Regions from separate parts of the Homo sapiens genome. Here region 2 is linked to region 1. A link means that fine-mapping ties the variant in region 1 to the expression of a gene that starts in the linked region. Tissue or cell type: fibroblasts. Region 1 holds a variant in brackets; the other region holds the start of a gene. All regions are shown on one strand. Distances are between the middles of the regions.

What was found. PIP is the estimated chance that this variant, and not a neighbour inherited with it, causes the effect.
Region 2: it holds the start of TWIST2, and the variant in region 1 is fine-mapped to the expression of TWIST2 in fibroblasts (GTEx, PIP 0.98).

Annotation. Positions count from the first base shown.
Region 1 is chr2:238,724,156-238,731,789 of GRCh38, forward strand. All of the region lies in intron 1 of LINC01937 (long intergenic non-protein coding RNA 1937), which reads left to right. Among named protein-coding and RNA genes, the nearest start is that of LINC01937, 8.0 kb to the left of the region's middle. RefSeq lists an enhancer at 6,309-6,808. The variant T/C (reference allele first, on the strand shown) is at 4,432.
Region 2 is chr2:238,844,366-238,851,999 of GRCh38, forward strand. It overlaps TWIST2 (twist family bHLH transcription factor 2), which reads left to right and starts at 3,720. Exons shown (of 2, transcript NM_001271893.4): 1 at 3,720-4,368. The coding sequence starts at 3,851. The coding sequence ends at 4,333. LOC100287387 (a long non-coding RNA gene) reads right to left here and starts at 3,542. Exons shown (of 1, transcript NR_157851.1): 1 at 181-3,542. RefSeq lists enhancers at 1,656-2,166, 2,167-2,677, 4,211-4,720, 4,721-5,231.

The sequences.
Region 1 (7,634 bases):
CCAGCCTGCTGCCAATGTCAGAGGCTTTTTTTTCTCTTTCTTAGACTCCTTCTCAGATTGGTAGCTTGAAACGTGTTTCAAAGATAGAATGCCCCTTACTTAAAGCATCAGTGGACTATCTGCGAAAATGATCTTATATTTGTCATTTTAAAAATCTCATTAATTTTTTCACCCTTATTTTGTTAAGGATCTTTGCATTCATGTTAATGAAGGAAGTTGTTCTGTACTTTTCTTGTCATGTCTGTTTTTTGTTGTTGTTGCAGGATAATATTGACCTCATAAAATGAGTTGGAAAGTGTTCCTGTTTTTCTGTGTTCTGAAATAATTTGTGTAAGGGTGGTGGTATTTGCTCCTTGAATATTTGATATGTTTCTAGTGAAACGATTAAGGCTGCTGTTTTCTTAGAGGGAAAGTCCTTAGTTATGAGTTCAAACCGTTCAAAGAGATATAGGACTATTCAGACATTTTATTTCTAATAATAATTATCTAATAAAATACTTTAGTATATAGTACATATTAGTACTAAAACATATTTAGTACTAAGCTTTCAAAAGAAACCTGTTAATGAGGTTATATATCTTGATGCAAAAACTATGGTGATACTAAAGGGAAGTACAGGGGGAAAAAGAGATATGTTTAAGAATTAACAAAGCGTAGCCCTAAATAAATACTGGATGTCAGGGCTACAAGAGAAGAATGTCTAGGCTGCCTGCCGAATTTCTGGCTTCTGTAAGCGTGCTCTTGGAGGTGTAGGCAGGAAGAGCAGCAGGCTCAAGGGACAGAGACGCGGCTGTTGCACAGACTCATGGGATCTGAGATGCCTTTCTGGCATTCAGGTGGATAAACTCCATCAGCAAGAGTTCCATGGCAGCAGCTTGGAGGAGGACGGGGCGGGAGTCAGGTTAGGCATTTCCAGCAAAAAGAGGGCAGCTGGAGCCTGCGGTGTGAATGGATTCACTCAGGGGATGGTCAGAGAGTTCACTCAGAAAGGACCAGAGAGGATCAGGAGCCAGGGGAGACTTAGAGGTATATGTTTTGGTGGATTATGTGCTTTTTAAGGTAGGTGTGGCTAAGGGGCTGGGTAGGAAGGAGATTCAGAAGAGAGGATGATCATTGATTAAATAGGTTTTCAATGAGAGTTTTAGTAAATCCAAGGTTCTAAGGGTGAGTTTCTCCTTAGACAAGAGGACAGACACCTTGTCCTCAATGAGAAGGAAGGTAGGAGGACAGAGTAGGGAAAGGCTCCCCCATGGAGCTCTTGGGCGTCTCTGCGTAGGTGAGTCTCAGCCTCAGTCGGACCCATGTCTTGGCAGAACACTCTGTGATCCTTCCTGGGATTCAGCAAGCAGGGCAGTCTCGTAAGGGTCATCTGTAGGTCATTTTCCATCCACTTCCCTGTCCTATAGGAGGCTCCCTGTCTTGTGAGGGGCTGCCACAAGACACTGTCTTATCCACTTCCCTGGTTCCAGTGAGAAGTAAAACTTTCCACATGCCCCCCTTAGGGCATAGCTCCAGCTATAAAGGTGCTTGGTTGTATTTTAGAGTGAGATATCCCAATGGAGCAACCCACTCCTCATGTCTGTCATCTGGCTTCTCCAATTTGGTGTCATCCTAGGGATGTGGAAAGCTGACATTATGATGATGTTGCTTATGCCGTTAGTGTAAGTGATAAACAGTCTAAAACCATCTCCATATTGACCAGATCTATGTGGTCTGAATGTAGGTTTCATGTTGCAGCCTAATATCCAATGCGATGGTATTAGAAAGAGCAGCCTTGGGAGGTGATTGCCTCAGGAAGGTAGAACCCTCATGAGTGGCATTAGTGCCCTTATAAAACAGACCCCAGAGAGCTAGCTGGTCCCACCCACCCAGTAAGGACACAGCAAGATGGTGCTATCTGTGAGCCAGAAAGTGGGCCCTCACTAGACACCAAATCCATCTTGACTTTGGACTTCCCAGCCCCCAGAACTGTGAGAAATCAATTTTTGTTGTTTATAAATATTCAGTCTGTGGTATTTTATTATGGTAGCCTGCATGGTCTAAGGCGTGTGGCCACTCAATTTTGTGATGAAGTCAGTGGTGCTGCTGGGGATAGTGTAAGGCTTGACAGGAAGTGTGGGCAAGAGGGTGGGCAAGACGGTGCTCATTCTGTCTGAGAAGTAGGCAAGGTGTTCTAGGGCAGTGGTGAAGACAAAGTTCAGGAGATGGTGAATGTTTTGAAAGGAAAGTTTAATATGTTTTCAAATTATTTATTTGCTTTTTTTGAGAGTGGATCTCACTTTGCAACCCATGCTGGAGAGCAGTGGCACCATCATAGCTCATTGTAACCTGAAACTCCTGGGCTCAAGCCATCCTCCTGCCTCAGCCTTCTGAGTAGCTGGAACTACTGGTGCACACCAGCACTTCTGGCTACTTTTTTCTTTTCTTTTCTTTTTTTGTAGAGATGGGAGTCTCACTACATTGCACAGGCTGGTCTCAAATTCCTGGCCTCAAGTGATCCTCCCGCCTCAGCCTCCCAAAGTGCTAGGATTACAGGCATGAGCCACTATGCCTGGCCTAGAATGGGTAGTTTAGAACAGACCAGCATCTCTGCATGTGCCTGTGTCCTGTAGGAAAGACCCAAACTCTCTGGAGGTCTCGCTACCCAAGGAAACATGAGCCTGGCCGGCTTCTGGATGTGGGGAAGCCTTTCACAGAGAGCAGGGTTCCCCATTGCTGAATTAACCTCTTGTCCTGAAAGAAGTAATGGTCTCGTTCTGGGACATCTCATATCCCTCATGGTCCCAAATTGGGCCCTGTGCAGCACAGATAGAATTGAGGAGGAACCTCTCAGTCCAGAGGGACGAAACTTCACCTAGAAATGAAGCAATATCTTTCTCAGCAGCTGCTCACTGAAAAAGTAGGGTGCCTTGGCTAATGTGAAGGGTGGGGTCCCAGAGATGAGGCCTCCAGAGGTTCTGGCGGGAGAAACACGTGGGATTTTGTGGAGTACAGTTCAAGAGCCATAGGTCTGCTGCAAACCCGCACTATGACTGTCTCATGGAAGAGCAAACGAGGACACTGAGGCTCTGAGCAGTGAAGCAATATGCCCGGAAGCAGGCAGGCAGACAGTGGCAGGACCAATGCCGACAGCCGGTTTCTGAGTCTGGAATACCAAGTTTGTTGGGGAAATGTTCCAAATAGGTGTCAGGAGGGCACAGGGCCAGGGCCAGGTGAGATGTGTGCAGAGCAAGGTGGGAATGAGGGGTCCCTGAGGATAGCACTGGGGTTGAGGTGGAAGAAAAAGGGAACCCGTGCCAAGCTCTTCTTTCCTTAACAAATGTTTACCGAGTATCTCCTCCGTGTCGGTGTGACATTAGGTGCAAAGGACAAGGCAACGGGGACTGTTTCTGTCTGTGTGGCACATCGAGTCCTGTGGAGAGAGACTCCCAGCAAGGAGTAATGCTTTTGCATATAACAAGACTTACACGTGACTATAGATTCCACTTGCACCATGCTTTTCGTGGACTCATTTGTTCAGGGATGTGGATGTAATTGACATTCCATTTTACTAAGCACATCGTGTTATTCCATTCTCATGACAACACCCGGTTTATGGATGAGATATCTGGAGGTTGCATGGTTTTCGTAACTTGCTGAGGGTGTCACAGCTGGGAAAGACAAGAACCAGGGTTCCTACCCAGCTCTGTAGGAGTCAAAAACCCAGGCCCTTGGCACCTGCACAACACCTCTGCCTCATTTCTCAGTGAGCTCTTGTTTTGTCTGCTCTCTACCCTTGTGCCCCCACACGCTGTCATCTCCTGCCCTCCTTTGGAAGCATGAGGCTGGGGGTCACAGAGGGAAGCTGGCCCCTCTGGAATGGTCCAGGTCTGTTCAGTGGATGGGAGGGGCATTGGGCTGCAGAGCTCAGCCCAGGGGTGCACATCTGGGAGCCTGTCAACCACAGGGTCCGCCTGTAGACCCAGCAGAGAGCATCGTCACAGGAGCCAGCCTTGGCCCGGGACATTCAGTTAGAACAGCTCATTTATTTGGCAAATTCCACTCCCAAGTTGGAAGTCATGTTAGGATTTGCTCATGGGTGCAGGGTATTTCTGGAACATTGAGTGCAGATGAACAATGAAATTCCTCCCTGGAGGGCACCTAGGAGAACTTGCGGGCTTATTAAAATCGCAGCAGTGGGGAGATCACTTCACTTCACAAAAGCAAACAGCAAGGTCACTTAAAAATTGTTGCCTCTTTTCTCTCATTAAAAAAAAAAAGGAATGCTTGCTTGGAGCTAGGGCTATCTTGACTTTCAGCCTGCCAGGCAAAGGGATGCTCACGTCATGGACCATTATCTGATTGTAATCTACGAATTCAGAGAAGTTTCTGGGTAAAATCATAGTGGGAAAATCGAGTTTTTGGATCTGTGTCTTCAGAACGATGCAGTTA[T/C]GTGGAGGAAGGCACTCCCGGGCCTGGGCCTGCCTTGCAGCGGTGAGTTACTAAAGCTGGAGAGTTCAAACTCTCCAGCTCCGTGCAGATGTAAGTTTTCAATTAGGTTGCCTGGGTCCAAGATTAGTCAGAAACACTGCAGTAAAACTTAATCCAATCATTCTGATTCTTCTCCAAACATGATTTATCTTATGATCATCAGTACTTCGATGAAAGGGGAAACGCCAGTTCACTTTTTTTTCCCTTTGCTGTGATTCATGTGTCCATTATCCCAGAATCTGAGTCCTGTTTCAGTTTGGCAATAGCTTCCTTTGGCATTCTATTTTTGTATGATCATTAGCATTCCTTTTTTCCTAAGCTTTCATAACATTCAAGTCAGCCTTTTATATCCTTCCCCAGAAGGGCTGGAGATCTTGTAAGCTCCCGCTGTAAGCAGGGCCTGCCTAACCTTAAATGTGAAACATGTTTTAGTGCTGAAGTCATTCCTCAAAAAGCAACGTGAACTTGGGAGGCTGTGCCTGGCAGAATTCAAAGTGCCCCGTGGAGAGACTGCGGGGAAGGACAAAGAAATTGGGACCTGCCTGAGGCCATGAGTCCAGACACAGGCATGAGCTCCTTTCCTGTGCTGTGGAAGCCAGTGGGACAGAGGGTGTTGTGCTGAGGAAGCAAGCCAGTAGGACAGAGGGTGTCACCCTGGTCTTAGGGCCAATCAGTCAGGCACAGAGCATGGAGTTCAAGTCCTGCCTCCGTTGCTAATTAGCCAGGAAATCTTGAGCAAGTGGTCCCACCTGCAGTGCCTCGGTTTCCTCATCTCTCACATGAGTCTTCCTCACGGGTGGTTTTGAGACTCAAATGTCATAATGAGCATGAAATGCTGAATATCTGACCAGGCAGGTTGGATACATTCGATGTCCCCTTAGTGAGCCCCTACTGTGTGCTAGTCCTGGAGGTGCAGGGATGGAAGGTGTGGTTCCTCCCTCCTGGGAGCTCCCAGTGTAACTCAGCAGTTACCAGTTGGAGCTGTTCTGCCCCTAGGAGACACTGGATATCGTCTAGAGACATTTCTGGCTGTTGTGATTTGATGTCAGGGAGCTGCTGCTGGCATCTAGTAGGTAGAGACCAGGGATACCGCTAAACACGCTATAATGCACAGGACAGCCCTGCCCCCAGAGCAAAGGATTATACAGGCCCAAGTGTCAACAGTGTCGAGATTGAGAAACCCCGGTCCAGCTGAAGAACTTCATGGGTGACCAGGCCGTTGAAATTCAATATGACGAGGGTCTTAGTAACAGGGTGAACTCAGGGGGCAGAGAGACCACCCCTTGTTTACTCTGTCTCAGTCATTGGGTCAGACTTAGTATGACACCCATGAGGCTCCCAGTCCCTGCCCATTTTTCAGGAGAGCTGAGGTGGTCCAAGCCCAGTTTAGCACACAAGAGGGCTCCTTCAACGACCCCCATACCACCATCTAAGAAAAATCTGCCAAAACGTGTGCAAAGTATGACAGCTGCTCTGTGCCAGGCACCATGCTAGCACTGCTCCTGCCCCTGCCCGGTCAATAACTAGTGCATGGCCAGCCTGGAGCTCCTGCCCCTGAAGCCTGAGCCTTGGCCATGATCCCAGGCAATGTCTCCATAAAGACGCCTTAGGACCTCGCGGCCTAGGCACTTTTCTTACCCCAAGTCTTCCAGAACCACGGATCAGGAAGAGGTACCCAGAGCCCTGGAAAGCTCCTGGGTTGCTGAGTTCTGGGAAGAATTCCTTCCCTCCTCAGTAGGGACCTCAGACAGAAGGAGCCGTGGACGGCCGCTCTGTTAGCTGAGGCTTAGCACAGCCTGCCCCTCCCTACATCGCTGCTGGGACCCAGCTTGCTGCAACACAGCGGTTCTCAGAGTGGGGTCCCCCAAAGGCAGTACCAGCGTCACCCGGGGACCTGTTAACTATGCAAAATCTGAGACCCTACGACCTACTGCATCAGAAACCCTGGGGATAGGGCCCAGAAGCCTGTGCTATGAAGAGCCTTGTAGGTGAGTCTGACGCGGGCTGGAGTGTGAGAACATGCCTGTGGAAGGCAAGCCCCTGTGGGTGGTCAGGTAAGTCCTTCCACTGCTGACAGTGCTGGGCTGAATGCAGCTGGGTTCCCTGGGAGCCCTCTCAGTACAGTCTCTCCCGCCTGCCTGGGAAATTCACCTTCAACTCCACGAAGCCTCAGCTCCCCTCTGCAAAAAGCACAGAATTGCTTTGAAGTTAAACCATGTGGCAATCATGATCATAAAATTCTTAGGTTGGTGCAAAAACTGCGATTACTTTTGCACCAATCTAATAAATTCAGCCCCCTTAGTAGAAGGCTCTAAGTTGAAGAAGTTTACTATAGTTCCTCTGTTTTGGTAAAAAGCAACATTGAATCAATGCAGGCAGCAAGCAGGAAACATTTAAAATGGACGCCAGTGAGTCAAGACATGGAGCGCTGAAAATGCTGGGACTGCATTGGAAATGTGCATAAAACTTAAAACAACAGAGATGAGAAAGATACATTCTATCTCCATCTGGCAAGTTAAAAAAAAAAAAAAAACCAGAATGCTGGTCGTGCTGTATCTTGAGTTTGGTGATAGTTACAGGAGTTTATTCATTTGTAAAAATTCATTGAGATGAATGAATGCATTTAAGATTACATATAAAGAATATAAATTGTCCAGGCACTGTGGCTCGTGCCTGTAATCCCAGCACTTTGAGAGGTTGAGGCTTGAGGATGACTTGAGCTCAGGAGTTCAAGAATAGCCTGGGCAACATAGCAAAGCCCTGTCTCTGCAAAAAATAAAAAATAAAAAAAAATTTACTGGGCATGGTGGTGCATGCCTGTAATCCCAGCTACTCAAGAGGCTGAGATGGGAGAATCCCTTGAGCACAGGAGGTTGAGGCTGCAGTGAGCCTTGATTGCACCACTGTGCTCCACCCTGGGCAACAGAGCAAGACTCTTTCTCACAAAGAATAATATAAATTATGCCTATATGTCTATAAACATTGAAAAAAATTCTGTATTTTACAGTTTGTATGTTACACTTTAAAGTATTTCAGGTTGACAAAAAAAAAACAGATAAATGAACTTTTGGTGAAAGAGCAAGGAGACTGAGACTTTCAGGAAGTGGTACAGGCACAATGCATGCTGGGAACGGAATGGGCAGGTGGAGAATGGCCTTAGGAAG
Region 2 (7,634 bases), 120 kb after region 1:
CAAGTGGAGGTAACAACCCACCATGTCACTGGGAATGGAAACTAGACCTTTAACGATATCTTGGTTTTTGTCTCTTGCTCCAACAAGAACTTCATAGAGTTAAACTACAAAAGGATCTGCTGAAGAGCTCAGGTGGGTTCACCCGTGCAGGCATTTTGACAAAAGGTAGCGACAACAGCATTCAAATGTATAAATTCATTGCTTTATTTAGCTCCTGAGAGTTTACTAAATTTTTTTCACATCTGAGCAAGTACACAGTTTCTTATCCTAAGAAAGCCCAGGGGCTGTATAATTGCGTCGTATTCTTTTTTCTTTCTTTTCTTTCTTTTTTTTTTTTTTTGACACAGTCTTGCTCTATCGTCCAGGCTGGAGTGCAGTGGCATGATCTTGGCTCACTGCAACCTCCGCCTCCTGGGTTCAAGCGATTATCCTGCCTCAGCCTCCCGAGTAGCTGAAATTACAGGCATGCACCACCACACCCAGCTAATTTTTGTATTTTTAGTACAAATGGGCTTTCACTATGTTGGCCAGGCTGGTCTCGACCTCCCAACCTCAGGTGATCCACCTGCCTTGGCCTCCCAAAGAGTTGGGGGATTACAGGCGCGAGCCACCGTGCCTGGCTGCTATTCTTGAAGACTATCCCCAGGTGACAATCCCTGCAGTGTCATTCTACTGCAGCAAGATTAAAGCCAATCTAATAGCTGGCAAATTTGCTGTGAAAACATATCACCTTCTGTTACTTGCTGCCCTAAGGAAAATGTGCAATAGAAGAATCTTTCAGAACACCAGTTCATTTTTTTTTAAAAAACACAAAGTCACATGAAACAAAGCACACTTTTTTACATATATGAAAGGAAGCATTCACAGGATTTTCCATACTCAGTAATGAATAAGTACCCCAAGAACTGTATTTACTTCTGTGAATCTTTGTTGCGTGATATTTTACTGAAGTCCAAGTGAGCCTGGGTGGTCCTGCAAAGAGTATTCACACAGAGATATATTGTATTACTTATGCTATTAATAAATTGGCTTTATTAGCCTTATCACTGACTTAATTTTTGAAAGAAAAACTCAAACTAAATCAATAACCTGAGTATTATTTCCCAAATTGATGACATTTTCATTTGGGTTTTAATTCAGCAAATTCCCCTCCTCAAAAGAGGGGAATGCTGTCACTTCCCCAGCCAACATACAGGTGACATTGGAAACGCTGCTAAATGCCACTGTGCCTTAGCTTCTCCTATGTATGCAAGGGGTCACTGCCCAGGTAATGACTCTGAGGGGCTGGCAATACAGCATAAGAAAGTCACTCCAAATTCTGTTAAGCAAGGTTTTCCGCAGGCAGCCGTCAGTATCACAGCCTCCAGTACTATAATCATTGTTAAAGCATTTTAAAATAGACAAGACACGCCATGAAGAAAGTGCATCCAGACGGTTGAACTGGGCTGCTGGTTATGATAGCTCCAGGGCGCCCCGGGGGGTCGCAGGTGAAATCCTCCAGGTCCATCTCCCCAGGCAGAGGTGAGCCTGCAATCCAGCTTGCGCTGCCCTTCCAGGGCGTCCCCGGGGCCTCTGGTCTTCAGGGCTGGGCTGAGCCCTGGGCTGCTCAGGACCAAAGCTGAGCTGTTTTTCTTTCAAACTAAACTATGAACTCTCTCTGCTGGAGAAAGAGACAGAAAGGACAGAGAAAGAGACACGCCGACAGAGCCAGAGTGACACAGGGGCACGCAGACAGGGAGACGAGGATGGCGAAGCAGGCTACCAGGCAGGTCCTCTCCTCAGTAAAAGCCCTCCGCATCTGGGAAAGGGAAGATGTCCCTGGATCTGGGTCCTTGGACCCACACAGGGTTGGTAAAAGGGCAGCAAATCGCTACTGTCACTGCTCTGAGCAAAGAAACCAGGGAAAGGCCAGTTCGGGAAAAACAGGCCCTTTCCATCTGACGTGAAGCCCCAGGAAGGGCTGCAGCCCAGCACCGGCAGGACGGCTGGGGACCTGGCTTCTCTCTCTCTCTCTCTCTCGTTCCTTAAATTTTTATTTGAGAATTTTAAAGAAAGGGACCTGGAAAGCTATTTTGTTGGGCTAGAGGGGCCGTGGGCCTTCCCAGCGCGGAGGAAGGAGGGCGGTCAGGCCGGGTGGGGCTGGGTGCGGTGGCTCTGCAGAACCTTTAGGCACCGAACTGAAGCCGCGGGTCCGGTGCGCGGACACTGCGCAGGGCGCTGCTACCGACTCACATGCATGCGAGGGCCCGCTCCTAGGCGTTCTGCCTTCCTGGACGGATTGTTGGTAAAACGTCCCCTAGAACGGCCGGAGCCAGGGCCCTCGGACAGGGGCGCGAAGGGCCCGCTCTTTGCCGTCCTCGGGTTTCCCAACGCGGTGGTCGTGGCCCGCGGGCCCCACCTCGCGGCCCGCCTGGCCGGCCGGAGGAGCAGCGGAGGCCGAGCACTCCCCGGTCTCGGGTTCAACTTCAATAAAAGGGCCCAGCCCGCCCTTGATCACGCGGCTTGCCTGACAGCCCGGCTCAGGCCCGGGCCTAATTGAGCCCGGGTCACCTGGGAATAGGTTCAAAGGCATCAAAGCCGTAAAAACCACCTCCAGGCCCAGAGCCAGAGCGGCCTGGCGAACAAAGAGCCCCCCAACCACTTCAAACGCGCTCGCGCTCGCCGTCCAGATGGCCCGGGGCCGGGGTCCGTGGTGTCGCTCACCGAGGCCGGGCCCCACACTCCAGCCACCCTGAGCCTCCTGCTCGGAGCTGCCCGCGGGCTGCCAGCGCAGCGGAGGCTGGGCCCGGGGCAGCCTCGTGCAGCTCCCGGAGCGCCCTCCGTCCTCTGCTGACCCGCGAAGCGAAGGCGGAGCGCAGAGGCTGGGGCCGTACAAGGCGGGCCGGCAGGCGCCCCAACCCGCGCCCAGCAACCCGGGTAGGGCCAGGCAGGCGGGCGCGGCGGGTACCGGGCGCTCCCGCAGAGGCTCGCTGTGGCGTTGTTTTAAAGCTGTTAGAAGGAAGGTTCGGGAAGGGCGTCGGGGCCGGGGCTCCCCAGCAAGCCAGGGTAAGAAATGGTCCCCGACACGCACGCTGGCCGAAGGGTGGCATCTCCACGGATCTTGGCGGCATGTCCTTGGGCACGGGCGTCTCCAGGGGGCCCCGACTGTCCTTACACTGGCGGTCCGGACACCGAGACCCCTGCCCGCGCAGCTCCCCAGACCCCAGGCCTAAGCTTGCGGGCCGCGGTGCAGACTAGCTGTGCGCCCGGGGGCGGCCAAGACCCACACAGGTCGAGGAGGCTCCTGGCTGCGTCCTCATCTTCTGGGAGCGCATCTGGGACTGGACTCGCCTCTCTAGCCCCTCACGCCCAGAGAGAGAACCCCCCAAAGCCCAGTGGGGGCCGATCTCTACGTTGAGGCGTAGACAAAGCCAGGCTTGGCCGGGCCTAGGGCTCGGGGCGGCCTGAGAGTGCCCTGCGTTCGGGGTGGGGGCGCGGGCGGCGGGCGAGGACCCGGCCCCCGGGATGCCCTCCGCGCCGGGGCCGAAGGGGGAGGCAAAACTGAAAGTGCCGCGCCGGGGGGCGGGGGCGGCCGGCGAAGGCCCCAGAACTTGTCCTGCCCCCGGCCACCGCGGCCAATCAGCGCGCCGCCCTAGCTCCTGACAACTATTTAGCAACCCAGCCCAGCTAGAGTTTCCAAAAAAGTTAGAATAACTTCCTCTCCCGGAGACCTCGGTTTTGCACAAGCCGGCCTTGAAATCAGAGCCTTTCCAGCAACTCCGAGAGCGTGTGCTCGGCGACCGCGGGCTTGGCCAGCGGCGCGCGCTCGGCGCCCCGGCGCCCCCAGCCCCACGCGCGCCGGGCGGGCGCCATGGAGGAGGGCTCCAGCTCGCCCGTGTCCCCCGTGGACAGCCTGGGCACCAGCGAGGAGGAGCTCGAGAGGCAGCCCAAGCGCTTCGGCCGGAAGCGGCGCTACAGCAAGAAGTCGAGCGAAGATGGCAGCCCGACCCCGGGCAAGCGCGGCAAGAAGGGCAGCCCCAGCGCGCAGTCCTTCGAGGAGCTGCAGAGCCAGCGCATCCTGGCCAACGTGCGCGAGCGCCAGCGCACCCAGTCGCTCAACGAGGCCTTCGCGGCGCTGCGCAAGATCATCCCCACGCTGCCCTCTGACAAGCTGAGCAAGATCCAGACGCTCAAGCTGGCCGCCAGGTACATAGACTTCCTCTACCAGGTCCTGCAGAGCGACGAGATGGACAATAAGATGACCAGCTGCAGCTACGTGGCCCACGAGCGCCTCAGCTACGCCTTCTCCGTGTGGCGCATGGAGGGCGCGTGGTCCATGTCCGCCTCCCACTAGCGCCGCGCCACCCACCTCCGGACCGGCGCGCCAGGGTAGGTGCTGCGCGCGCGACGGGCGCCCTCCGCTGCGGGGGGCGGGCGGCAGGGGCGCAGGGGCATTGGGGCCTGCTCGTGTCTCCTCGGCGAGGCCCCGCGGGCCGCGGGGGCTTGGATGCCGTGCGCTTTTCCTCTTAGCAAGGAAGGCGGGCGGGCGGGACGCTCACAGTCCCAGGGACACCCCTGAGTGCAGACTTCCACGCGAGGGTGTCAGTTGGGAACCGGCGGACCGGTGACTCCCCCGGCGGGTTCTGAAGATACTTAGACAGATGGTCGCAGTTTTCATTCTCGGTGGTGTGTGGGTGTCCGTGGTTGGCGGTGGAAGGAGCGAGCATCAGAAAAACCTCCTGGGGCCGGCTGGGGACTGGGATATGAGGACCAGCTGCCCTTTGCGTCCGCCGCAGCGCAGGCCGCCCGCGAAGCTGCCCGAGCCGGGTGTTGCCGGGCGAATGGCTTCGCTTTCTTCCTGGGCAAGGGTAGAGCGCGTCCGTCGGGCGGACACTCAGATCTACCCAGCTGCTCGCGCCTGGGGTCCCCGGCCGTCGGCGCCCTGGCCTGCCCAGTGGGCGTAGAGGTGCGGGCCTGCGGCTCCAGGGTTTGCCTGGGGAGGACGGGAGGAAACTGCCCTGCGCTTCGGGGCCAGAGCAGCCACAGGGCCGGGTGTGCCCGAGAAGGGCCCTGGGCCGAGAGCGCAGAGCCTGGAGCGCTGAGGCAGGCGGGTCCGACGCAGCCGCGCGGAGCCCCAGGGCGCCCGCAGGCAGGTGGAGCTGACCTAGGAACTGGGAGCCCTGAGTCCCAACCTTGACCCTGGAGTACCCGGGAGGGGCCCCGCCCATCCAGCCCCGCAGGGATGGGCGAGGGGTCCAGGCTGGGAAACGGGTCTGGGGGACAGGGAGGCTGTGCGCGCCGGGCCCTGCGCGAGGAGAAGGCTCGGGGGACACAGCTGCCAGGAGCACTCCAAGTTCTGGTTTCCTCTGGAAGAGCGATTAGGGCGTCCTGCACCGGGTCCTTTTCACCAGACACCTTCCAAGTCCCTTTAGACAAGCTCGAGCCACGGAGGCGCCGTCCTTAGGCTCTGTGAGCAGGCGAGCCCCTCTCTCATCCGCCATCCAGGGCCATGGAGGGGCACAGAGTTCTTTTTGCTGGGGCCGAGTTAAAAATCCTTCCCCCTTAGTATGTTTTAGTTCCTCGCACATCTTGCGATGTTTTTATAAAAGACTCTACTTCACACAGAAGGAATTTAGATTAATCAAGAGCACCCGGCCGCCTATTCTCCCAAACATATCTATTTCTTTTTTTATGTGGTTCTATAATATCTGCGAATGTTGTTGCTGAGGCCACGAAAAGCTGATCCAGCACAGGTGGGTTTTATTTCATTTTTTTAGCTTTTATTTTGGTGTCACTGAAAATTCTGTAGCTGCAGAGCCTCCTGAGATAATGATAATTGTATAGTTTTTAAAAAATAATTTTCAGCAGAAAATAACTTGTGGGAATCTTCTCCTGTCTTTGTCAAAAACAGATGGAAAGTGTCTCAATCACATATTTCTCTAGGAAAGTTTGGATTGGCTGAGTACTAAACGCTACAGTGGGGTAATACATTAATTCTGGTTTTTGCTGCCTAAATAATGAGCTTCCATTAGTTACTTCCATTTATGCTTTACCTCATTCATGGTTTATAGCACATCTGAAATAAGAACAAACAGATGAGGAATGTCATCTTTTTAAAAACACACACATTGAGCCGTGTTTAAGGAAAATGTCACTTTAATTATCGTTAAGACTGCCCTCCAGAAAATTACTGAAAACAAATACCAGTAGATATGATGCTGCTAGAATTTAGTAGGAACATTTAAAATTCATTTAAAAATAATCGCACTCCTCAAAACTTAGAGAATCAGCCATAGGTAACCATTAAAGATTATAGAAAAATAAAATGCAATACATGTAATAAATAAATAAAAACAGTGCCAAGAGCTTGTTTGGAAAAAAGCCCTTGAAAATATAATAGATAATTACACAGTTAGTGGGAGAGCTGATGATCTATAAGGAGCCTATTTATTTTTATTTTTACATACTGGACTATAACTGAGTAGTTCAAACAAGCTAGTTTCATTAAATAGATACTCTAAAAGAAGAGAAAAGAAATATGGAAAAATTTTATCCATGAATGATTCTGGACACACCTTGTTTTTATTTATCAGGCACGTTAGGCAGACATCTTGTCATTCTTTTTGTCTTTAACTCATTATTCCCTATAAGATCAATACGATTATAATTGGTTTGATTTCCTGAAAATGTTGCTAAACAGCATTTGTTTTTATTTGTAGCATTTCTAAGAAGCATTAATTATATGCATCAGCAAAGAATCTCTAGACATTTCAGTACATTGTAAGTGATTTTAATGTTTGATGTGGGATGTTTTCACGTATGTGAAGAAAACTGTCAAGACTAACAGCAACAGCAGCACAAAGCCTAAATTGTCCTCTGAAAGGAAGAGAAACGCAAGAGATGGTGGAGTGCGGGTGCTGCCGATATCTATCCTGCCTTTCTTCTTTGGCCTGGTATTTAAAAGCACAATTAGACAATAAATCAGGTGTCTTTGTCCAGTCAGTTGGATTCATCTAATAGAAAAATCTCAAAAGGATTTTTTTAGTATTCTCATTAAATGCCTGAGTCTTCGGAGCAGGGTCCCAGACACCTGGCTTGGAGGGTGGGGGAAGGTGACCATTACTTATCAGACATTTGTCCTGTTCCCTGCTGTGTGGTTAAAGAAAACATCTTCTCTAACTTCTGCATAGTGTGCACAGATTTTCAGTAGATTTCCTCACTCAACAAACTTTTTTTTTTCTGAGAACTTTTAGCTACTTTGAAGAAATTGCATGACCCCTTCACCATCTAATATATGTGAGCCTTTTCCTCCCTCCTGAAAATTTACTTCTCATAGGTGTTTGTTAACTGCTGTATTCAGGATGCTAGAAAATCAGTTCTTCGTGGAGAAGAACAGAAATGCAGAATCCCAATGGAGCTTTTGCTTGCCTAGAAGAAGTAGAATGAAAGGCTGAGCTCCCTGGAATATAAGCAATGTTTGGTTACAAAATACCCATCAATAAGATCTGATGTAGGGATTTGACCTGTTAATGTGGGTCTTTCCCCTTAAATATCAGCAGTCCTTTCGGCCTTGCATCAGGGAAGTCTTGCTACTCATCTTGCTGGAGAGGGAATTCCTCAGACTTCAGTGGCTCTTTGAGGCCATTTGAGATAGA